3 linked regions of the Homo sapiens genome follow. The protein of the gene in region 1 interacts with the protein of each later gene in a biochemical or structural test. Each region holds a gene or a part of one and is shown on either strand. Other genes may lie near its edges.

Region 1 (6,119 bases):
CCAACGGGTATATGAAAACATGCTCAATCAACATCATTAATCATCAGGAAAATGCAAATCAAAACCACAGTGAGATAATACCTCACACTTGTTAAGATGGCCATTATTTTTTTAAAAAGAGGAAGAAAATAACAGGTGTTCGCAAGGATATGAAGAATTGGTGCCCTCGTGCACTATTGGTGGGTGTGTAAAATTGTACAGCCTCTATGGAACACAGTTTGGAGGTTTCTCGAAAAATTAAAAATAAAACTACCATATGATCTAGCAACCTCACTTCTGGGTAATTATCCAAAAGAACTGAAAGCAGGATCTTGAAAAGATGTTTGCACTCCCATGTTTATTGCAGCATTATTCACAATAGTCAAGAGGTGAAAACTAAGATCCACTAAACAATAAATGGATAAAGGAAATATGATAATATCCATATAGTGGAACACCATAGAACAACCATAGAAAAGAGGGAAATCCTGTCCTATGCTACAGTGTTCTCAAGGAAATGGGTAGTTGCTGTTTGATGGGTATAAAGTTTCAGTCATGCAAGATGAAAAAGTTCCAGAGATCTGCTGTATAACGTTGTACTTAACAGTTAACAATACTGTACTGTACACTTAAAAATCTGTTAAGTGTATAGTACAGTATTAACTGTTACATAACAGATGTATATATATATATATATATACACACACACACACACACACACATACATACATATGTAACAGATCTCATGTTATATGTTTCTTACCACAGTGAAAAATCTTGTGTGGGTGAAGTTACAAACACAAGTGTCTGCAGGACTAGGCCAGTACTGTAAGTGAATAAAGCTGGGCAGGGGATAGAGCGAGCATAAGGTACAGTGGGCTGTGTTAAAAAAGGCACATACCCTGTGTAAGGGGGCAGTCACCACTCAGCTCCAACCAAACGCTGTCATGCAGAGCAGAGGCCCAGTGGGACCAGATTTTATTTTTTTCAAATAAGTCATAAAACCAGAGTTTTATAGGAACTCTCCTTATTTTTAATTCAAAATAGTTGAAACTCTCTGTGCGTAACCTCCCCTCCCTATCCTAGCCCCTAGCAAACTAAAGCATACGGGGCATTCAGCCAGAGTGGCCTGCTTACAATCTCTGTACTTGAAAGATTAATTTCACACTTGTATACAGGATTGATTAAAGAGAAGGGGAAAGACCAGGGACAGAGAGAGTAATTAGAGGCTTCTAGGTAAAAAGTAGTGACAGCCTGAGGCAGAAGAAATACAAAGAAGAAGGCAGAGTGACTTGGCATTAAGAACATAGAATGGAAGGATTGGTCAGCTGATTTGGTGTGGGATGGGAATGAGATGGAGGAGTTGAAAACCTTTTTGAGGTTTGGAGCCATTTGAGAGCAAATTGGTGCCATTGTGTCCTCTTCTGTAAATCCTTGAATGTGTATTTCCTAAGAACAGAGATATTCTCTTCCATAGCCATAGTACAGAGATCAAAATCAGGAAACTTAACATTTGTACAATACTATCTAAGTCATAGTCCATATTCAAATTATATTAATTATTCCAGTAATTATGCATGATTTTAATACGGCAAAAACCAACATCTAGACAGAACTCCAAGAATCCCTTGTAGGAGAGCTGGCAGAAATACATAACGAGGTGCTGCCTTGTTGCATGCCTTCCCCTTTCCTGGATGGTTCCTAGCCACCCTCCAAACAGGAGCACTTGTATAACCAGGCCACCAAGCTGGTAGAGCCACAATGGATAGTAATGTACAGCTTCTGTCTATGCATAGGGTACTAGGAAGGGAATTCCATAGAAGGCATGCCATAAGAAAATTGAATTTCTTTGGCATGCCGACAGTAAGTTCCATGCAACAAATATCTGTGAATCAGCTACTATGAAGTCTGTGGGAAGGACACATGAATGCCTATTAGAAAGGTCTGAGGAGGCTTCTTGGAGAAGACAGGAATGCTGAGCCTCCAAAGAGAGATAGGAGGTAGGACTTCTCCAGAAAGGCCTGCTTCTGACAGAGACAAGGTGATATGGAAGCACTCTGGTTAACAGAAGATAATTACAATCCTGGGATTCATGCTTGTATACAAACCAGTTAAATAGTTATAGAGATAGTGACATAGAATATACCAAACAATAATACTGCAAAGAGGCTGATTGCAAATTTGGATTGGGTGACAAGTGCCTACCATTTTCCTAACTTATGGGAATGGTTGCTTTAAAATGGTAATGAGGAATGAGAAAATTGTTGACTAGGGACTACAGAGTTTAAAAGCACCTTTTCTCCTAGCCCTTTGGGAAGCCAAGGTGGGCATTGGCGCTCAGGAGTTTGAGACTAGCCTGGGCAACACGGTGAAACGCCATCTCTACTAAAATAAAAAAAATTAGCCAGGCATGGTGGCACGTGCCTGTAGTCCCAGTTACTCGGGCTGAAGCACTAGAATTGCGTGAACCCAGGAGGTGGAGGTTGCAGTGAGTCGAGATCGTGCCACTACACTCTAACCTGGGCCACAGAGTGACACTCTGTCTCAAAAAAAAAAAAAAAAGTACCTTTTCTTTTTTCAGCAAAGTATCTACTTTAGGGATATATCTGGCATTTTCCCCCTTATTATTTATATCTTTCAGGAGAACTACTATAATTTAACCTAAATATATTTGTACTTCTTTTTCAAGGTGAGGACCAAGGATCATGTATTTGATAATGTCGGCCACCTTATCAGATACCATATGGATAACAGTTTGCCAATCATCTCCTCTGGAAGCGAAGTAAGCCTTAAACAACCAGTGAGAAAAGATAATAATCCAGCACTTTTGCATTCCAACAAATGACAGTATTGAAGCACCATCACACTGATATTTCAAGAAACCCCATTTTGTATTAGGACACAAAGATAATTTAAACTTTGTTTGTAGATAAAATAGAGCACAAACTGTGAAGTGCATCTTTCCAAGACCATCATGGACCAGGTCCTCTATAAAATGAAGAACTAACAAAAATTAGTCTTCAGAAATGAAAATCAGAAAAGAGGAAGAGGGTTGGTCATTTTAAAAGAAATTATATGTATGCACGGATGTCACTTTTTAAGGCCATATTGCATTGATAACAAGCTAAAAGCACAACTAAAATTTCACATGCTAACGACAACTTGAATGAACTGCTGGGGCAGTGGTATGTGCCTTTCAACTTGATAATTTGGGGGACATTTTCATATTGGGAGATTAATTCTAAGTATCTTCATGTTCTATGACTATAGAACCATTTGCCAAAAAAAAAAGCTTTTCTTGCTACAAAAAATAAGCAATTTTCTTGAGCCTTATTGACTTTATTACATTTTCTGTTTAGCAGCATTTTTCACTGCAATGTTAAAATAAATATGACATTGAATTCGAACTGTGTGTATGTCAGTGGAATCAAATCAAAAGCCACTAACATGGCTGTCTGTTTCATTGGACTGTCCCATTTGCTGGTTAAAAGGATTGGGGCCCAAATCCTCTGGCCTAGCATTTCTCAGTGTTTGCTATTCAGACTGTCTAAATACAGCATGTGACAAGCTGAAGAAGCCAAATCTATCAGTCATTTCTGATTTCATTATATTCTCCCCCTCTTCCTGCTAAAAAGACAAAAAACAAAAAACAAAAAAAACAAAAAAAACCTCATGAGTGCATGGATTTAAAAGAGGGCAAACAAAACCAGTATTCTTCATATTTACTATTCAAATTGGTTTCATTCTTAGTAAAAGTACAGAATCTATTTGAAATTATAGTAAAATTTCTTCTTGATTGGCTGACACTGAATCATAGTTTCTCACCTACATATATCCTTAGCACCTCGTATAGATATGATCAGACAAAATGCAGAAGGAAAAAAAAACATATTGAATGAAGCACTTGGAAAGATTTTCCACATGTAGACCAACTGGTAAACTAACAGAGTGATTAAGCATGGTGTACAGAAAAGCATTACGCTGAGTCTTACCAGTGTGACCTTCAGCAAGTTGCTGAATCTGTTTGGGTTCCAGTTTCCTTGGCAATAAAATGAGCTAAATGGGCTAGGTGAATTTGGAGGACTACTTCAGTCCTAACTTATAGTATGAGTCTCTAAAAAGCAAGTTTTTCATTTGTTAGAGGTCGTTATTGATAACCAGTCTGTATAGTTAAGGTAAAAAATTAAGCTTTTCTTCTATAGTCTGTGTCCATACTCACAGAATGAATGGCACACCTGAGATCAACATTCACATAGTTTAGACTCCAAACCATTCAGTCTAAAATACTGAAACTTTGGAATATAGGGAATGATGATAAAAGTGGATTTGGTTTGAGTAGCAGAAAACTACTTATGTCCTTTTCTTGCCTTTCCAAGAAAAATGTTTTTTGTTTTTTTTTTTAATCTTGAGTTATCTGGATATTGCCTTGACTCCATTTCATTTTGGCTATGTAGATACAACTTAGTCTTTGTGATTGTGATATATTTGCTAAGTTTTAAATAAAACTTCTTTTGGATAGAAATCATTAGAAACCAAGCATACTGCACTCTAATATTTTACTGTAAAGGCTTATGATTTTTATTTCTACTGCCATTAATTTTTTAGATGGATTTGTTTCCTCTTACACAACTAGAATTAATGTATTTTTCACCAGTTTTCCATATACCTTAGGTCTTGATCGTTTGTCCTTAAAAAGGGGATCAGCATGAGTATAGACAGTAGAAATGTATGGGTAGTCTAACCACTTTTATCAGAGACAGAGCAGGGCTGTGGTCTCACTCTAGCTGAGCAGAGTATTAACTTGGTAGCAAGAGTTCCTGATACAAATAGATGCAATGACTGTAAATGGTGTCAGCAGTACACATGGATAATCAGTATTTGACTGTAATAGTATAGTAGTTAAATACAGCACTTAAAAATACCACAGACACAGTTAAAGCAAAAGGAAACAATAAAAGGAATGTCTGCATGCTATTTTAATCTCACATTCTTTATCTGTCTTAAAGTGGAAATCCATTTGCCTATAAATACCTGTAAACGACTTTAAAAAATAAATGATTATTGCTTTGTGACAATTGACAGAATATGTCTGATGTTTGGGATTTGGAAACTGTCATTTGTAAAATGTATCAGGGAAACACATTGGCTCAATCAAACTGGATAATTCAAGGTGAGTTTATTAAAGGGACTATTTACAAAGGTGTGGGCAGAGTTTAGGGAAATCAGGAGGGAGAATGCAGTGCCTTGGGGCCAATTAAGGGAGAAAGGGAAAGAACAGCTAACAGAATCTGGAGAGGGAGCTGTGTGCAAGGGCTGCCTTTTAGGAGCTGTGGCCTGTAGTGGAGGAATGCAATCAGCCCTGCTGACTCAACTAAGAGGCAGTGAGGGGCATTCATAACCCAACGTTTTTCTGCTCCCCCTATCTGTCTCCTGCTGGGATTCTCCAGTGGCCCAAGTAACTTGAAGACAGAGAGCAAGGGAGCTCCTTGATGCAGTTCTGGAGGTCAGCCTCCTGGGAACAGAGGAGGATGGAAAAGACTAGAGGGGGAGATCTGGAAGGGCAAATAAATGGAGTACATCTAGCACAGAGGACTTTGAAGAGAGTCAAGCTTCTAAAAGCATTAGAGAGGCTTTGGGTTAGCCAGTAAGGCAAAGCTAATTTGCAGAGAAATAAGTCCAGATTCTCAGGTAACCATAAATGAATTACAGCAAAAATGTCAACTTGTTACTATTATTAAAACTCAAGCTATATTTTGAAGCATTGGTTATTTTGCTCAAGAACAACTTCAAATGCATTTCAATCTTACAGAGATACTTTTAATCCCACCTTCATGTTTCTTGCAATTCCTTCTACTAATTTTGCCATTTTATTACTTGTAATTATATATGGAAAAGTAATGAACCTGACCCTGTTACCTTTTATGATTGGAATTATAGACCGACAAAAATTATAATATGAAATCACTATGTCAAACACATGTGAAATATACCATCTGCATCTGTGGAAAATATTTAAGTATCGACATATTAGTGTTAAAAATGAATTGTCTGTAGTTTGCCATAGTCTTACTAATGGGACAAACGGTTTTAGTCTGTGAATGAAAGAGAATTTATCACTACAGACTCTGAAAACATCAAAA
Region 2 (8,674 bases), on another chromosome or scaffold:
GGGTTCAAGTGATTCTCCGGTCTCAGCCTCCTGAGCAGCTGGGATTACAGGCATGCACCACCACACCTGGCTAACTTTTGTATTTTTGTAGAGACGGGGGTTTCACCATGTCGGCCAGGCTGGTTTCGAACTCCTGACCTCAAGTGATCTGCCCACCTCGGCCTCCCAAAGTGCTGGGATTACAGGCATGAACCACGGTGCCCGGCCTGGATTGTATTTTGAAGGAGGAATAGGAGTTTACTTTTTCTTTTCATGTTATTTTATCATTTTTAAAGCTTTTTTTTTTTTTCAAGGCAGGGGAATACCTGTATCTGTGTCCTATCTATTCTATCTATACCTAGTCTATGTTATCTGCGGCCACATGACCTCACAATGGTTGCAAAGACATCCAGGTTACTCCTTCTCTTAAGCCATTGAGAGAAGGCATAGGATGATTCGAAATAAAGTACAGAGCTCCTGCCCTAAGAGCTTACAGTCTATCTGGAAAGATGCCACCTGTGTCTAGGAAATACCAGGAAAAGAAAAAAAAAAGTATGAGAATTGGTGTTCTCTAGTCTAAAGGGTACAAAAGCAAACAACTGCTAGAACTTTATTCCTTGTACCACCCTTTGGTATTCAACAGCACAATGCCTGATTTTGTGATTTAACTTTTCCTGTTTTGATGCAGTGCCACCACGCTGGGATTTTGTAATTATGAGCTTCAAAAGCAGAGACAACATCTTCTATTTCTGTGTCTCTTCCTACGGTGAATAATATAGTCCTTGCCGTTTCAATGTTAACAAAAGAAAAAGAAAAATGCTGCAATAGCTGAGAGGGTTTAGAGTAAATGGGGTTTGGAGAGGGTCAGGTATTTTCCACAGCCAAACCAGAGTGGATGTTGTCCCTTTAACTGTGGTGTCCTGGCTGAAGGCCAAAACTTAATTGTTGATGACCCTTCCTTTTCTTTTTTTTTTTTTTTTTTTGAGATGGAGTCTCACTCCATCCCACAGGCTGGAGTGCAATGGTGTGATCTCGGCTCACTGAAACCTCCGCCTCCCAAGTTCAAGCAATTCTCCTGAGCCTCCTGAGTAGCTGGGACTACAGGCACATACCACCATGCCTGGCTAATTTTTGTATTTTTAGTAGAGACACGGTTTCACCATGTTGATCAGGCTGGTCTCGAACTCCTGACCTCGTGATCCGCCCTCCTTGGCCTCCCAAAGTGTTGAGATTATAAGCGTGAGCCACCATGCCTAGCCTGACCCTTCCTTTTCTGCTAGCCACTGTTATGTACAGTGGGTTCACAAAAAAGTTCATTAATGTCCTTAAGAAGTCAGATGGGATGGCTCTGGTGGCTCAGTGCCCACAGACCAGTGAAAGACAGAATGTCCGGGCTGTACTGTAGGTGGCTGACACCCCATCTTCTTGGTCACCTCCTGGAGGCCACACTTTATGTATCTGGATTCTGTTTCTTTTTAAAATTATCCTATTTTATTAATTTATTAATTTTAAATTTTTGTAGGTACATAGCAGGTGTGTATATATTTATGGGGTACATGAGATGTTTTGATACAGGTATGCAATGTGAAATAACCACATCATGGAGAATGTGGTGGTATCCATCCCTTCGAGCATTTATCCTTTGTGTCATGAGCAATGCAATTACATTATTTTAAAATATACAATGAAGTCATTATTGCCTATAGTCACCCCGTTGTGCTATCAAATAGTAGGTGTTATTCATTATTTCTAAGTAGCTTTTTTTGTCCCCATTAACCATCCTCACCACCTCCCCCACCCTCCCACAACACTTCTCAGTCTCTGGTAACCATCTTCTACTCTCCATCTCCCTGAGTTCAATTGTTTTGATTTTTAGATCCCACAAATAAATGAGAACATGTGATGTTTGTCTTTCTGTGTCTGGCTTATTTCACTTAACATAATGACCTCCAGTTCCATCCATGTTGTTGCAAATGACAGGATGTTATTCTTTTTTATGGCCGAATAGTACTCTGCTGTGTAGATGTTCCACATTTTCTTTATCCATTCATCTATTGATGGACACTTACGTTGCTTCCATATCTTAGGTATTGTAAACAGTGGTGCAGCAAATATGGGAGTGTAAATGTATTTTTGATGTACTTATTTCCTTTCTTTGGTGTGTATACCCAGCAGTGGGATTGCTGGGTCATATGGTAGCCTGGATTCTGTTTCTTATTTGCCAGTGGATGTTTTAAAGTATACATCCTATTGCCCTGGGTCAACTTTCTCAAGGACGTCCCCTCAGTCTTCTTCATTTTTACATATATGTTCGTTATTTCTAAAAGTGTTAAAATTATAGAAAAGTATAAAAAAGAAAATAAAAATTATGTTTTCCAACAACTCAGAAATAGTCACTTTCAACGCTTTGATATTTATTTGTTGTATATCTGTGGTGTGTATTTCAGTGTGTATAAATTTCATTCTGTTTAAATTGTGTTTTTTTCCCAATCAACAGTATACCATAAACATTTTCACATCTTTTTATGTCAATCTGATTTCACCATAGTATTTGAACACTTGTCTGGAACTTCATTGTATACCATGATTTTTAATAAATAATCCATTTTTGTTGACCATTTTGATTATTTCTAGGCTTTGATTATTATCAACTATGCTTCTATAATGTCCTTATACACAAATTTGGGGGCACATATTTGATTTTGGCTTGGTGTATATCATAAAAATGGATTTTCTGGTGGGGCGCAGTGGCTTACACCTGTAATCCCAGCACTTTGGGAGGCCAAGGGGGGGGGGGGGTGGATCATGAGGTTAGGAGTTCAAGACCATCCTGGCCAATATGGTGAAACCCCATCTCTACTAAAAAGTATAAAAATTAGCCGGGTGTGGTGGTGCACGCCTGTAATTCCAGCTACTCAGGAGGCTGAGGCAGGAGAATCGCTTGAACCCAGGAGGCGGACGTTGCAGTGAGCCGAGATAGTGCCACTGCACTCCAGCCTGGGCGACAGAGTGAGACTCTATTTCAAAAAAAAAAAAAACTGGATTTTCTGGGCCAAAGGGTATGCATACAAGGCTTTTGCTTTGTGTTTGTGATGTTGACCTCTTGACATGTGATACCAGTGTATAGTAGTATTATGTAAGTTATTTTCCACCTCTTTCAGAAAAACCGTTTTGTTATCTATTGATACCTTTGTTAATTAGTCTCAAAGACTTTTAATGTTGTCTATAGTGTTTTTCATGTATTGAGTGCAAAAAGCAGGAAATAGAAAATGAAGAATCAGCCAAGAGCCTTGTTTGTTTGTTTAGTTTGGTTTGGTTTTCTTTATGCTTTTACTGTAGGTATGTCTGGAAAAATCAAATTAAATGGAATGAGCTTGACTCATGAGGAGGCCCCTTTCATTTTCCTGAAGTGAATTAATACAGCACCCACCGATCCTGACATTAGTTATTTCAGAAGCACACTAAGAACTGACCGCACTTCTCAGTGTCACCAAACTATTCTTATCTGTCAAAGTTTCATTTCAAATACTTCTGTAAGGTCTAGGTGTACCCTGCTGGTGTTTGTGATGTCCTACATTACTCTTGATCTACTTTTCAACTATGAAACAAGGGAAAAATTGGAGGTCCAGAGCTCAGGATTCAGATATTATTACCTCTGCTACTCACAGCAGAGCAAGTAACTTAGCCTGTGTGGAACTTCATTTTTCTTTCTTTTTTTTCTTTTTTTTTTTTTTTTTTTTAGACAGAGTCTTGCTCTGTCACCCAGGCTGGAGTGCAGTGGCACGATCTCGGCTCACTGCAACCTCTGCCTCCCAGGTTCAAACAATTCTCCTGCCTCAGCCTCCAGAGTAGCTGGGGTTACAGGTGCACGCCAGCAAGCACAGCTAAATTTTGTATTTTTAGTAGAGATGGGGTTTTGCCATGTTGGCCAGGCTGGTCTCAAACTCCTGACCTCAGGTGATCCACTCCCAAAGTGCTGGGATTATAGGCGTGAGCCACTGTGCCAGGCCCACTGTTTTTGTTTTTTTTTTTCGTGATGACAAATTTAAAGTCATCTCATAGGAATAGAAAATAGCTTTTTAGTAGAAGCTCTTGGAATTTAAATTGAGACTGAATGGAAAGATGAAAGAAAATAAACTTATTAACATTTAATGAGAACCTTCAAAGAACTAGGCATAGTACCAAATGGTTTTATATTTTTAAACCTCATTTATTCCTCTCAAAACACCTGGGAAGGAGATATTTTTGCCATTTCACAGCTGTTGAAACTGAGGCTCAAAAAGACTAAGTAACTTTTCTCAGCTACACATGTGGCTGAGCCAGTATTTGAACCCAGTTCTGTTTGCAGACAGAACCTGGGCTTTTTCACACCTGCAAACTGGAAACATTAATTGGTTCTTAAGATCATCATCGATGTGATAAAACCTGGGACAGAAATTAGTCAAGACTAGCTGCATCTGCCTTTTCCTCTGGTGGGTAGGAAAAGGAGGAGTATAATGATTTCCTCAGGCATGAAGGTCGATGATGAGCAAAGTGTATACTCTCTAATCTAATGTCATAATTCATATTGTGGAGTAATTATCTGGATAAGTGTAGGGTCTCTGACCTCATTCTAGATATTGTACATTCCATGGCTATTTTCATTTTGGTCCATGAACTCTCTTTGCTCTCATGAGCACCATTTTTATCCCAATCTAATCCTGTATGTTTGTGTTTTTACACAGATTAGTTTTTAAATGTTATATATAATTTGCTTCTGAAACACCATTGCTCAATGACTACCAAATCTTTCTCATTACCAAAATCCTTCTATGCCAACTTCTTCAAGAAATTTGATCACCTTTAGATGAATTGTTAATGAAAATTAAAGCTATAGCCGGCAACATGGGTATCTTTGGGCTAATGGCCAACCAACAGGCCATCTGTGTGAAAGAAAACAGGCTAACAATTTTGGACTCTGGTCTCTTGGGGCTACATTGAGCATTGACCTCACCGGTGCTCACTGAAATTAATTGCTTTTCAGGTTGTATTTTCTCATCACGGAAACCTTCTTCTCCCAATTCAAACCATGTGGGTTAAAATGAGAAAACAAAAGCCAAAACGGCTTCCCACACCCAAAAGCTCCTTCTGTCAGAGATCCCAGTAGCCCCGGGAGAGCTGTTAGAAGTCTGAGAAGGATTGGTCATCATCGCATACCATACATAGGTGGAGGGCTTGTTATTCTCAGTTTCCCGCCTATGAGAGGATACCCCTATTGTTTCTGAAAATGCTGACCGGGACCCACACTTCCAACAAAAATTCCTCTGCCCCTACAGCAGCAGCAAAAGCAGCAGCAGAAGCAACAGCAACAGATAAGTGTTTTGATGAATTGCGAGATGGATAGGGCTTGAGTGCCCCCAGCCCTGCTGATACCAAATGCCTTTAAGATACAGCCTTTCCCATCCTAATCTACAAAGGAAACAGGAAAAAGGAACTTAAAACTCCCTGTGCTCAGACAGAAATGAGACTGTTACAGCCTGCTTCTGTGCTGTTCCTTCTTGCCTCTAACTTGTAAACAAGACGTAGTAGGACGATGCTAATGGAAAGTCACAAACCGCTGGGTTTTTGAAAGGATCCTTGGGACCTCATGCACATTTGTGGAAACTGGATGGAGAGATTTGGGGAAGCATGGACTCTTTAGCCAGCTTAGTTCTCTGTGGAGTCAGCTTGCTCCTTTCTGGTAAGGTTTGGCTTTATTTTTTTTAATTTAGTATTTTAAAAAACAGAGTTAGTGATTTCTGGGTGCTCTCCCCAAATCTCATCAGTGCTGATGAACAAGGGGTGGCTGTAGCAAAGGCACCATTTCTCTGTGAGTCTCCAGTCAATATGTGTGGAAGGATTGAAATGCAAAGGCTCTGTGGCATGAACTGATTTTGCTAGTTTGTCTTCTGGGTGATTGGCCCCTGTGTTAGAAACTCTTTGAGGACCGATTAAATCATCTTATTTGAAGAGATCCCCTTACTATCATGCATTATTTTCCTGCTCCTCATTCTGGAGTGTTTTTCTTATTGATTTTTTTTTTAAAGAACAAACCGGTTTTACCTGCTTTAAAGAAAATCTTCAGTAAAAAATGAAATTCATGCTGAGAAATACAGGGGCCCAATTAAGGCAGTGTATAGATTGTCACTGTTAAAAGGGAACAAAGATGCTTTTCTGTAAAAAGATTTTATATCTACATCCTATTTTAAGCAAAGCAATGAAATTGTAGGCTTTTTTTTTTTTCTTGTAGTTAGGGTCAGGGAGATTGGGGCTATTAGAATTTTTGTTTTATTTTAAAAAATGTTTGCCATGTAGTAATTCATAAAGGGTTTACTGGCCCAATGAAACAAAAATTTAGGCAGTTACCAAAATCTTTAACACAGGAGAGTATATGAAGCCTGTTGTAGAGTGAAGGAGTGGTTGGCCAGTGTGTTGGGTTCAGCGTGTTTATTGCTTAGATACTCCAGATAGTGGTGTGCCTCTGTAGCTCACTCAGCCTATGTGACATAGGTAGAAGGCAGTATCCAAACCTGAACTACATATCACAAATACATTTATCATTGCCATCAGTCTCTCCCCTTCGGTTTGAAAACATTCTAATTTTAATAACGAAAATCGAATTGATATTGGAGATGAATTTGGGAAAATTCACTAAACTTCATGGATATAGGGCATATTAATATAATTTGATTCGAGTATACATAAGTATCTGCTATATTTTCTAGGTGTTTGAACTATTTTATTAAATATTCAAAAAACAAATCCAATGAAATAACTGAGTTGAATACAGTTTGTTTTATAGCTCTCAACAACCAATATTTTGAGAATTTAATAATATTCTTTAAGAATGTGTAACACAAGTTGCTAAAAATTAAAAGATTTTAGGTGGCTTCAGTATTTATGTGGAAATTGTTTAAATAATGTTGACTTCTCCAATAATATGTACTTCAAATAATTATCATGATTCCATTTTTGATTTTTTTTTTTCTGAGTGCCATTATTTACCAGTGACATGAAATCTGGAACTTACTCTATACCAGGGATTATAGTGATGTGAAGCCCAGGTGTCTATAGTTTCTCTGAGGTACTTTGTAGGTTAATACACACACAACTGTTTTCATTCACTTTTTTTACTCCTAAAGCAACTGTGTTATAGCACTTTGCAATACAGGCTTAGAAGAATTGTCATAAAATCAAACAAAAAGGTATGTAGCCAAAATACTTGTTCCATGTCTAGACCTCAGATCCCTGGAAAAAACAGCACTGCCTTTAAAAGGCAGAGGACCAAGGAGAGGAAGTAGGTTCATGTTCTTGTTAGGAAGGGTGACACTAGCAAGGTTAGTTTCTGAGGTAGGTCTGTTGTCTTGATCGTAGCTTGCATTCCTAGTCTAAGCCTCCATGAGCATGACTGCTCAAGGCTTGATAATTGCAACAAGAATCCAGCTAGATAATGTCCACAGCCATAGGAGCCCGTTCCTCTAGTCAAACTCCTGGTAGACTAAAGCAGTGGAGCAAGGGGCTTATGGCTTAAAGGTTTATCTCTCTAGTCCAGTGGGTTGTTTCTTGTTTCTTTTTTCTGAACCCACAGACTGAAAAAAAAAAAAAGCCACTTTTTTTTAGTGAAGGTGGCTCTGGATGACAGAGTTGTTTACCCATAAGAGGGCTGGAGGGGATGTGTAGCTCTCAGAAGCTCCTTACAAATACTCCTAGATTCTGTTGCTTTCCTTTTCTGAATTGAGAATCATTGCTAACTTCAGCTTTCAAACAGGTTCTATTATATTAGCTTTTCCCTACTCTTCCTCATAAAACCAGGCTGTTCTCTTTAAAAAGTTGTATATGTAGAAAACTAACAAAAAAATCACTGTGATTTATCATAGTATCTTCTACGTGATCAACAATGATCTAATAGGAAGTCTCTAGTCTCATGCTTTCATACCTCTTTACTGTGTCACTTGACTTTTTTTTTTTTTTTTTTGAGATGGAGTCTCGCTCTGTCACCCAGACTAGAATGTAGTAGAGTGATCTCAGATCACTGCAACCTCCGCCTCCCAGGTTCACGTGATTCTGTGCCTCAGCCTCTCGAGTAGCTGGGACTACAGGCGTGCGCCACCATGCCTGGCTAATTTGTTGTATTTTTAGTAGAGACGGGGTTTCACCATGTTGGCCAGGCTGGTCTCGAACTCCTGACCCCAAGTGATCCGCCCGCCTCGGCCTCCCAAAGTGCTGGGATTACAGGCATGAGCCACCACGCCCGCCCTTGTCACTTGACATTTTAAATAACAACTGGATTCAGAGATAGCAGACATCTTGTCTGGGGTGGCAGAGGAAACAGTTGTAAGGTCAGGGAAGTGCTCCCAGATGAAACCCCCTTGTTAGGGCTGGTCTCAGAAGGCTAGTGTCAAGTCTGAGTAATCAAGGGTGGAGGTCTGAAAGCTGGGATCGGAGACACCCTTTGGAATTATTCTCAGAGGGAGGAGCTTGCTTTTTTCACAGATGCTCCCTTCCAAGCATTGTCTTTATTGTTTGTTAGGTCTCAGCATTTCCCTTTCAGCCCTGCCCTGGGAGAGCTTCCTGGAAGAGTCTAGTTCTTCCAAGGCGTCTCTCCAGGAGGGAAGGAGTCTTCTAAGTTCATCTCAAAAGACTATGTGATGTTCTCTGGGGAATTTAGGTGGGTGGG
Region 3 (8,440 bases), on another chromosome or scaffold:
CATGTAGTGGGGCCACGACGCCCGTCTGTGCAGCTTGGCCAGGGAATTGCACTGGCCCTGAGCACCTGTCTGCAGTGCTAGCCCTCTGCAATGACCCCCTCACTGAGGGGCCTTCATGATGTGTTCGTGAGGCAAATGGCTGGGCCAGGCCGGGCTGCAGTTCTGAAAGCTCCGGTAGAGCATGAGAGCCGAGCAGGTGGCCAGTAACCCAGCCTCCCCCACCCTTGCTAGTCCCATGCCTCCCTCTGGGTCCCTTGGTGACTCAGGCCCAGCCCAGCAGTTACCCTCCTGTGGTCCTGAGTAGGGCTTTGGGCTCAGGCAGAGCACCCAGTGACTTGCCCCCACCCACAAGTGGAGCTTGGGGACTCCACCTGAAGATGGCCTTGTGTGAGTTTATAGATTGGTGTGCCCCAAACTGCTCAAAGGTGGAAGCCAAAATCTCATTCTTCCAGGTCCAATGACAAGAGCTGATCACTTTTAAAACACAGGATTCTTGCCTCTAAAGTGTTCTACAGTCAGCAGAGGTGTGATGTGCCTCTCTTTTTTTGTGGGGGGAGGGGATAGGGTCTCACTCTGTCACCCAGGTTGGAGTGCAGTGGCGCAATCCTGGCTCACTGCAACCTCCACCTCCTGGGTTCAAGCGATTCCTGTGCCTCAGCCTCCTGAGTAGCTGGGATTACAGGCACGTGCTACTTCGCCTGGCTCATTTTTTTGTATTTTTTGGTAGGGACAGGGTTTCACCATGTTGGTCACACTGGTCTTGAATCCTGACCTCAAATGATCCACCCACCTCAGCCTCCCAAAGTGCTGGGATTACAGGCGAGAGCCACCACGCCTGGCCAACATGTGCATCTTAAATACTGTGGGCTGTGAATAAGCAATTGGACAACAGCTTTCCGATTATATAAGCTGACTGTAGGCTAGTTGGAAAAGGCAGAGAAAAGCATAAAGAAGAGACTGAATGTCATTGGACCACACCGCCCAGTGACCTCTGGCTGCCCTCTGGTGTGCTCCGTGGTGTGCACATGTATGCTTTTTATTGCCCTAAATGGGCTCATGCGATGCTGTTTTGTGATATGATTTTGTTCCCATTGCAAAGCGAGTTTTCCTTCACAGTTAAAATGTTTTTCTATAGCTTTTTTTCCTTCTAAGATTTTATGAAATTTTCCAAGCACATAGAAATGGCAAAAGAACTATACAAGGCACTCTGAGTCTGGTGGCCTGCATTCTCACCGCTTTAAGTGTGAGAATCTTAAGAATTATTAAGATTAATTCATGATATTAATTAATGTATCATTAATTCATTAATCATGAATTCATCTTAAGCCTCATGTGTCCCTTGTGCGTGTGGCTGCTCTGATGGGAGTGGCTTGGGCAAGGACTTCAGCTTCATGGAGTAGGGGCCAGGCAGGCAGGCAGCCCTTCCCCACCTTCATGCTACATCCATCTGAGCAGCCAGACCCAGGCTGACATCTGTGAGCATCTGTGCTTGAAGCCGACAGGGTCAGCAGGTGCTTGGTGGTGGGGGTGGATATCTGGGCCCCCCGGAGGGCTCTGTGAGGGCCAGGTGGAGCCACTCACTGGTCCTTTCACTCTCTGCAGATGGTCTTTTGGTGTCCTGCTGTGGGAGATCGTGACCCTAGGGGGAAACCCCTATCCTGGGATTCCTCCTGAGCGGCTCTTCAACCTTCTGAAGACCGGCCACCGGATGGAGAGGCCAGACAACTGCAGCGAGGAGATGTGAGCGGGGACTGGCTTTGGCCCAGCCTCACTTGGGAAGGGAGGGGACATCTGTGTGCATTCCCTCCCCATCCAGAGCAGCCCCAGGAGAAACCAGGAGAAGTGGGGGGTGGGGAGTGGGCAGGGCAGAGGTTAGAGAGCCATCCTTGGGTGTGGCAGTAGATGCTGGGGGTCCTACCCCACTGAGGGCTGGTGGGCTTCCTAGGGGGTCTTATAAAAATGAGTGAGAGCAGAGACTGGTGCAATGCAAGCTCAAGGGCTGAGAGCTGTCCCAGCAGGACACTTAGGGAGGAGAAGGTAATTCCAGATGGCCCAGGGGGCACGTGTTAAGGGGTGCCTGAGTGGAGGTGCAGAGCCAGGCAGGGGCAGCCTGGGCTGCAACCTGAGAGGTTGAAACCTTTACACTCTCAGGGGAGATGGTCTTAGAAACCAGGCTGAGAACAGATGAGAAAGGGCTGCCCAGAGGCAGAGATGCATGGTACATGCATTCCACAGAGTGTGCACACTGCTGGGGCGTGGAGGGGGCATGCTGGGCCGAGAAGCCAGGTACCACCTCCCTGGGCCCCCAGCTGGTGGCCAGCTGGAGCGCTGTGGTCTGCCTGGGCACCCAGGCAAGCAAGGACGGTGCAGGACAGACGTGTGATTGCCAAAGGTTCTTGTTTGTCTGTCTCCACACCTAAAAGCCCTCAATCAATTCATTCTTCTTGAGAGTTTTAAGGACTGGCACTTCTCACTTAGCTGCCAGAGCAAGCATAGTATCCAGTGAGCTGTTTACCAGTGTCTTTGCAAGGGAAGTAAAAATGAATCTCCCTTGGAGGGAAGGGAAGCTTGTAGGATTCTGGACCACAGCTCTGAGAGACCTGAGCACAGTGGCCCACGGGCTGGGATCCTGCAACAGGCCATGCCCCAGTCCCACGAGGCTCAGAGATGTCAGCGATGCAGAAATAGCTTTGGAGTTGGAGACAGAGCACACTGGGCCCAGGGTACAGGGCAGGGTGCGATGGCTGTGGTGGGCTGTCCTTCTGAGACCTGGCCCTGCTTGGATCATATTGGCCTGTCTGCTCTTCCCACCAGGTACCGCCTGATGCTGCAATGCTGGAAGCAGGAGCCGGACAAAAGGCCGGTGTTTGCGGACATCAGCAAAGACCTGGAGAAGATGATGGTTAAGAGGAGAGTGAGTGCCTGGGTCCAATTCCCACAAGCTGAAAGTGGCTTGGGGAGACTCCAGCCTCACCCCAGGGCAGTAGTTTTAGCCCTCAGAGTTCCCAGTGTGGGGCCACAGTGGGATTGTGCAGAGAGAGAGAGTCATGCTCTCCCCTGCATGCAGACAGCAGATTGAACCCTTCTCAGGCCAGGCCGCTTGGGCTTCTTTTCAAGTCATGAAGAAACCAAGATTCTTGACATTTAGGAAAAGCTCTCTACAGACAGGCATGGGAGGAAAATATTCCAAAGCCAAAAAGAAATAGTTTTCCATAATGGAAAATGAGAAAGTTGAGTTAAAGCAAGTGCCCAAAATTCAGATGCCCAGAGGGGGGTCCGGCTGGAGGAGGGCAGTGAGTAAGGAGCAGTGGAGACTGTGGCAAACAGCCAGCCCCCTCCAAAGGGTTCCTTGCTGGAGTACCTGTGGCCTGCAGAAAAAGGAGCCAGGAATGGGCTGGGTCTTCTGAATTTTATGAGGTTTATGTTGTCTCCCAGTTTTTATTGTTAACAATTCATTTAAATTTCCCAGAGCCGAACGCAGGCCAAACAAAGCATATCGGGGGGTGGCCAGAGTCAGCCTGTGTGCCTGGAAGTACAGTTTGTGAGGTCTACACATTTTCAACCAATATTCATCAGGCAGCTGCTAGGACCCATACTATGTCTCAGAGGCTGGGAATGCAGATAAACAAGACCAGCACAGCCCTGCCCTCACGGGGTTTACACACAGGCCTTGTCTTAACATTGGCACATTTACTGAGTTGTCACTTCTTCCGACTTGGATAGCGGGATGCAGGACCTAGGACCCCATAGGAAAACTTCACATCACTGTCTCGCTTGGATGAAAACTTCAAGTCCTGAGAATGCAGCGTTGTTCAAAACAGAAGCGATCACTGGTGCTGGCCTTCCTAGAACAGTGCTGAGAAACAGCCGGGAAAACGCTGGGCCCCTCTGTGCACATTCAAGCTGGGCATTGAAAGGAGCAGACGCCAGTGGCCCCTCGTGCTGGGGAGCCCGTGCCTGTAGCAGGGTCCTGTGCACCCTGACAGCGCTGTCAGATTTCAGAACTCAGCCCTGACGTGACGTTCTAGATGGCAGGGGTCCTTGGGGAAAGCTGGAAAACATCCTGCAGGCTGGGGCTGCGTCCTGGCATGTGGCTGCAGTGGGCTCCCCCAGAGCCCAAGGGTTTGTCAGCGGGCTGGTTCCGTGCTGCCCATCTCCGGGTTGGGCCAGGGGCAGCTAGATGAGGCGTCCCCCAAGGCTGCCCTCCAGGCCCTGGAGATAAGACGCTGAGGGAGCACATTTCTTTCCCCAGGGAGGTGACTTTCCAGGGGAAGAGACAGAATAGACAACACCCAGGGGAGTGATGGGGACCTCAGAGCAGGACCAGGCCAGCCAGGAGTCCTGGGAGCTCTATGCAGCCTGGCCCTGGTCTCTTGGAGAGGTCAGGAGATTGGTGCGAGGTGGAGACACAGCCAGAGCCTCTGCCCTGAGGATGGCTTGTTGTATACTGAGTTGTATCTAGTTGTGGCACATGGCTTGGAGTGACCGGCCATCTCTGTCTTCCAGGACTACTTGGACCTTGCGGCGTCCACTCCATCTGACTCCCTGATTTATGACGACGGCCTCTCAGAGGAGGAGACACCGCTGGTGGACTGTAATAATGCCCCCCTCCCTCGAGCCCTCCCTTCCACATGGATTGAAAACAAACTCTATGGTAGAATTTCCCATGCATTTACTAGATTCTAGCACCGCTGTCCCCTTTGCACTATCCTTCCTCTCTGTGATGCTTTTTAAAAATGTTTCTGGTCTGAACAAAACCAAAGTCTGCTCTGAACCTTTTTATTTGTAAATGTCTGACTTTGCATCCAGTTTACATTTAGGCATTATTGCAACTATGTTTTTCTAAAAGGATGTGAAAATAAGTGTAATTACCACATTGCCCAGCAACTTAGGATGGTAGAGGAAAAAACAGATCAGGGCGGAACTCTCAGGGGAGACCAAGAACAGGTTGAATAAGGCGCTTCTGGGGTGGGAATCAAGTCATAGTACTTCTACTTTAACTAAGTGGATAAATATACAAATCTGGGGAGGTATTCAGTTGAGAAAGGAGCCACCAGCACCACTCAGCCTGCACTGGGAGCACAGCCAGGTTCCCCCAGACCCCTCCTGGGCAGGCAGGTGCCTCTCAGAGGCCACCCGGCACTGGCGAGCAGCCACTGGCCAAGCCTCAGCCCCAGTCCCAGCCACATGTCCTCCATCAGGGGTAGCGAGGTTGCAGGAGCTGGCTGGCCCTGGGAGGACGCACCCCCACTGCTGTTTTCACATCCTTTCCCTTACCCACCTTCAGGACGGTTGTCACTTATGAAGTCAGTGCTAAAGCTGGAGCAGTTGCTTTTTGAAAGAACATGGTCTGTGGTGCTGTGGTCTTACAATGGACAGTAAATATGGTTCTTGCCAAAACTCCTTCTTTTGTCTTTGATTAAATACTAGAAATTTTTTCTGTTTCCTAACTTCATCATTGATTGTTTGAAATCTTGGAGTTTCAAGCATTTTTTTCAAGCTGAGACGGTTCCTTTTGCATGCCTCCTGACTCACTGACTCCTCACTGGCTTTGTGTCTAGTGCCACACTCCATTTGTGCTGACGATGCTATGAGGCTGGCCCGTGTGCACCCTCGATTTGGAAGGTCCTCTTCTCCGTTGTAGGCTCAGACAACAGACGAGTGCCTCCTTTACGTTAGAGAATGTTTTATAGAACGTTTCCGCTGCAGTAAGCCATTGAGTGCAGCAGTGTGCTGTTGCCCTACACTGCCTTAGAAAAAGAGTTAAGCAGTTCGACAAATATACATCAGATTAGAGAGTCTCAAGTTCATAAAAGTCAAAATTGGTAGTGTCTGTTAAGTTACATTTACCAAGAGAGCACATGATATTTCCCCTAACTATAACAGTGTTTTTGGAAACCTGGAACACAAAACCATTAATATAATTGGCACAGAAACCACGAGTTTGGTTTGAACATCAAAGGGAGTTTTGCCAAGGCCTTACTGTCTGCACTTGAAGTTTTGGTTCTTCAGTGCAGAACAAATGATCTGTTTTCATTTTTAGGCATGTCAGACCCGAACTGGCCTGGAGAGAGTCCTGTACCACTCACGAGAGCTGATGGCACTAACACTGGGTTTCCAAGATATCCAAATGATAGTGTATATGCTAACTGGATGCTTTCACCCTCAGCGGCAAAATTAATGGACACGTTTGATAGTTAACATTTCTTTGTGAAAGGTAATGGACTCACAAGGGGAAGAAACATGCTGAGAATGGAAAGTCTACCGGCCCTTTCTTTGTGAACGTCACATTGGCCGAGCCGTGTTCAGTTCCCAGGTGGCAGACTCGTTTTTGGTAGTTTGTTTTAACTTCCAAGGTGGTTTTACTTCTGATAGCCGGTGATTTTCCCTCCTAGCAGACATGCCACACCGGGTAAGAGCTCTGAGTCTTAGTGGTTAAGCATTCCTTTCTCTTCAGTGCCCAGCAGCACCCAGTGTTGGTCTGTGTCCATCAGTGACCACCAACATTCTGTGTTCACATGTGTGGGTCCAACACTTACTACCTGGTGTATGAAATTGGACCTGAACTGTTGGATTTTTCTAGTTGCCGCCAAACAAGGCAAAAAAATTTAAACATGAAGCACACACACAAAAAAGGCAGTAGGAAAAATGCTGGCCCTGATGACCTGTCCTTATTCAGAATGAGAGACTGCGGGGGGGGCCTGGGGGTAGTGTCAATGCCCCTCCAGGGCTGGAGGGGAAGAGGGGCCCCGAGGATGGGCCTGGGCTCAGCATTCGAGATCTTGAGAATGATTTTTTTTAAATCATGCAACCTTTCCTTAGGAAGACATTTGGTTTTCATCATGATTAAGATGATTCCTAGATTTAGCACAATGGAGAGATTCCATGCCATCTTTACTATGTGGATGGTGGTATCAGGGAAGAGGGCTCACAAGACACATTTGTCCCCCGGGCCCACCACATCATCCTCACGTGTTCGGTACTGAGCAGCCACTACCCCTGATGAGAACAGTATGAAGAAAGGGGGCTGTTGGAGTCCCAGAATTGCTGACAGCAGAGGCTTTGCTGCTGTGAATCCCACCTGCCACCAGCCTGCAGCACACCCCACAGCCAAGTAGAGGCGAAAGCAGTGGCTCATCCTACCTGTTAGGAGCAGGTAGGGCTTGTACTCACTTTAATTTGAATCTTATCAACTTACTCATAAAGGGACAGGCTAGCTAGCTGTGTTAGAAGTAGCAATGACAATGACCAAGGACTGCTACACCTCTGATTACAATTCTGATGTGAAAAAGATGGTGTTTGGCTCTTATAGAGCCTGTGTGAAAGGCCCATGGATCAGCTCTTCCTGTGTTTGTAATTTAATGCTGCTACAAGATGTTTCTGTTTCTTAGATTCTGACCATGACTCATAAGCTTCTTGTCATTCTTCATTGCTTGTTTGTGGTCACAGATGCACAACACTCCTCCAGTCTTGTGGGGGCAGCTTTTGGGAAGTCTCAGCAGCTCTTCTGGCTGTGTTGTCAGCACTGTAACTTCGCAGAAAAGAGTCGGATTACCAAAACACTGCCTGCTCTTCAGACTTAAAGCACTGATAGGACTTAAAATAGTCTCATTCAAATACTGTATTTTATATAGGCATTTCACAAAAACAGCAAAATTGTGGCATTTTGTGAGGCCAAGGCTTGGATGCGTGTGTAATAGAGCCTTGTGGTGTGTGCGCACACACCCAGAGGGAGAGTTTGAAAAATGCTTATTGGACACGTAACCTGGCTCTAATTTGGGCTGTTTTTCAGATACACTGTGATAAGTTCTTTTACAAATATCTATAGACATGGTAAACTTTTGGTTTTCAGATATGCTTAATGATAGTCTTACTAAATGCAGAAATAAGAATAAACTTTCTCAAATTATTAAAAATGCCTACACAGTAAGTGTGAATTGCTGCAACAGGTTTGTTCTCAGGAGGGTAAGAACTCCAGGTCTAAACAGCTGACCCAGTGATGGGGAATTTATCCTTGACCAATTTATCCTTGACCAATAACCTAATTGTCTATTCCTGAGTTATAAAAGTCCCCATCCTTATTAGCTCTACTGGAATTTTCATACACGTAAATGCAGAAGTTACTAAGTATTAAGTATTACTGAGTATTAAGTAGTAATCTGTCAGTTATTAAAATTTGTAAAATCTATTTATGAAAGGTCATTAAACCAGATCATGTTCCTTTTTTTGTAATCAAGGTGACTAAGAAAATCAGTTGTGTAAATAAAATCATGTATCATAAAATGTGTAAACTTTTTTTCTTTTTAACATTCTAGTTGGAAACAACAGATTTCTGATTTTGTAGTTTCCATACAATATTTAAAACATCACAAAGAATTCTATCATGATAACCACTGAGGCATCAATAGTGGTCGAGGACTAGGGGCTCTGGAGATATCGC

Evidence for each region.
Region 2: the proteins of SHC4 (region 1) and TEK form a complex in vitro, tested with the Homo sapiens proteins (one study listed by BioGRID).
Region 3: the proteins of SHC4 (region 1) and RET interact in a test that uses a peptide from one of them, tested with the Homo sapiens proteins (one study listed by BioGRID).

Annotation. Positions count from the first base shown.
Region 1 is NC_000015.10:48,822,676-48,828,794, reverse strand, and holds the end of SHC4 (SHC-transforming protein 4), read left to right. Parts: intron 1-2,668; coding exon 2,669-2,824; 3' UTR 2,825-5,054; downstream 5,055-6,119. UniProt on the Homo sapiens protein: Activates both Ras-dependent and Ras-independent migratory pathways in melanomas. Contributes to the early phases of agrin-induced tyrosine phosphorylation of CHRNB1.
Region 2 is NC_000009.12:27,103,945-27,112,618, forward strand, and holds the start of TEK (angiopoietin-1 receptor isoform 1 precursor), read left to right. Parts: upstream 1-5,280; 5' UTR 5,281-5,646; coding exon 5,647-5,698; intron 5,699-8,674. UniProt on the Homo sapiens protein: Tyrosine-protein kinase that acts as a cell-surface receptor for ANGPT1, ANGPT2 and ANGPT4 and regulates angiogenesis, endothelial cell survival, proliferation, migration, adhesion and cell spreading, reorganization of the actin cytoskeleton, but also maintenance of vascular quiescence.
Region 3 is NC_000010.11:43,122,069-43,130,508, forward strand, and holds the end of RET (proto-oncogene tyrosine-protein kinase receptor Ret isoform a precursor), read left to right. Parts: intron 1-1,602; coding exon 1,603-1,740; intron 1,741-2,814; coding exon 2,815-2,914; intron 2,915-4,506; coding exon 4,507-4,654; coding exon of another isoform or gene 4,655-4,686; exon of another isoform or gene 4,687-6,043; coding exon 6,044-6,201; 3' UTR 6,202-7,449; coding exon of another isoform or gene 7,450-7,583; 3' UTR 7,584-8,283; downstream 8,284-8,440. UniProt on the Homo sapiens protein: Receptor tyrosine-protein kinase involved in numerous cellular mechanisms including cell proliferation, neuronal navigation, cell migration, and cell differentiation in response to glia cell line-derived growth family factors (GDNF, NRTN, ARTN, PSPN and GDF15).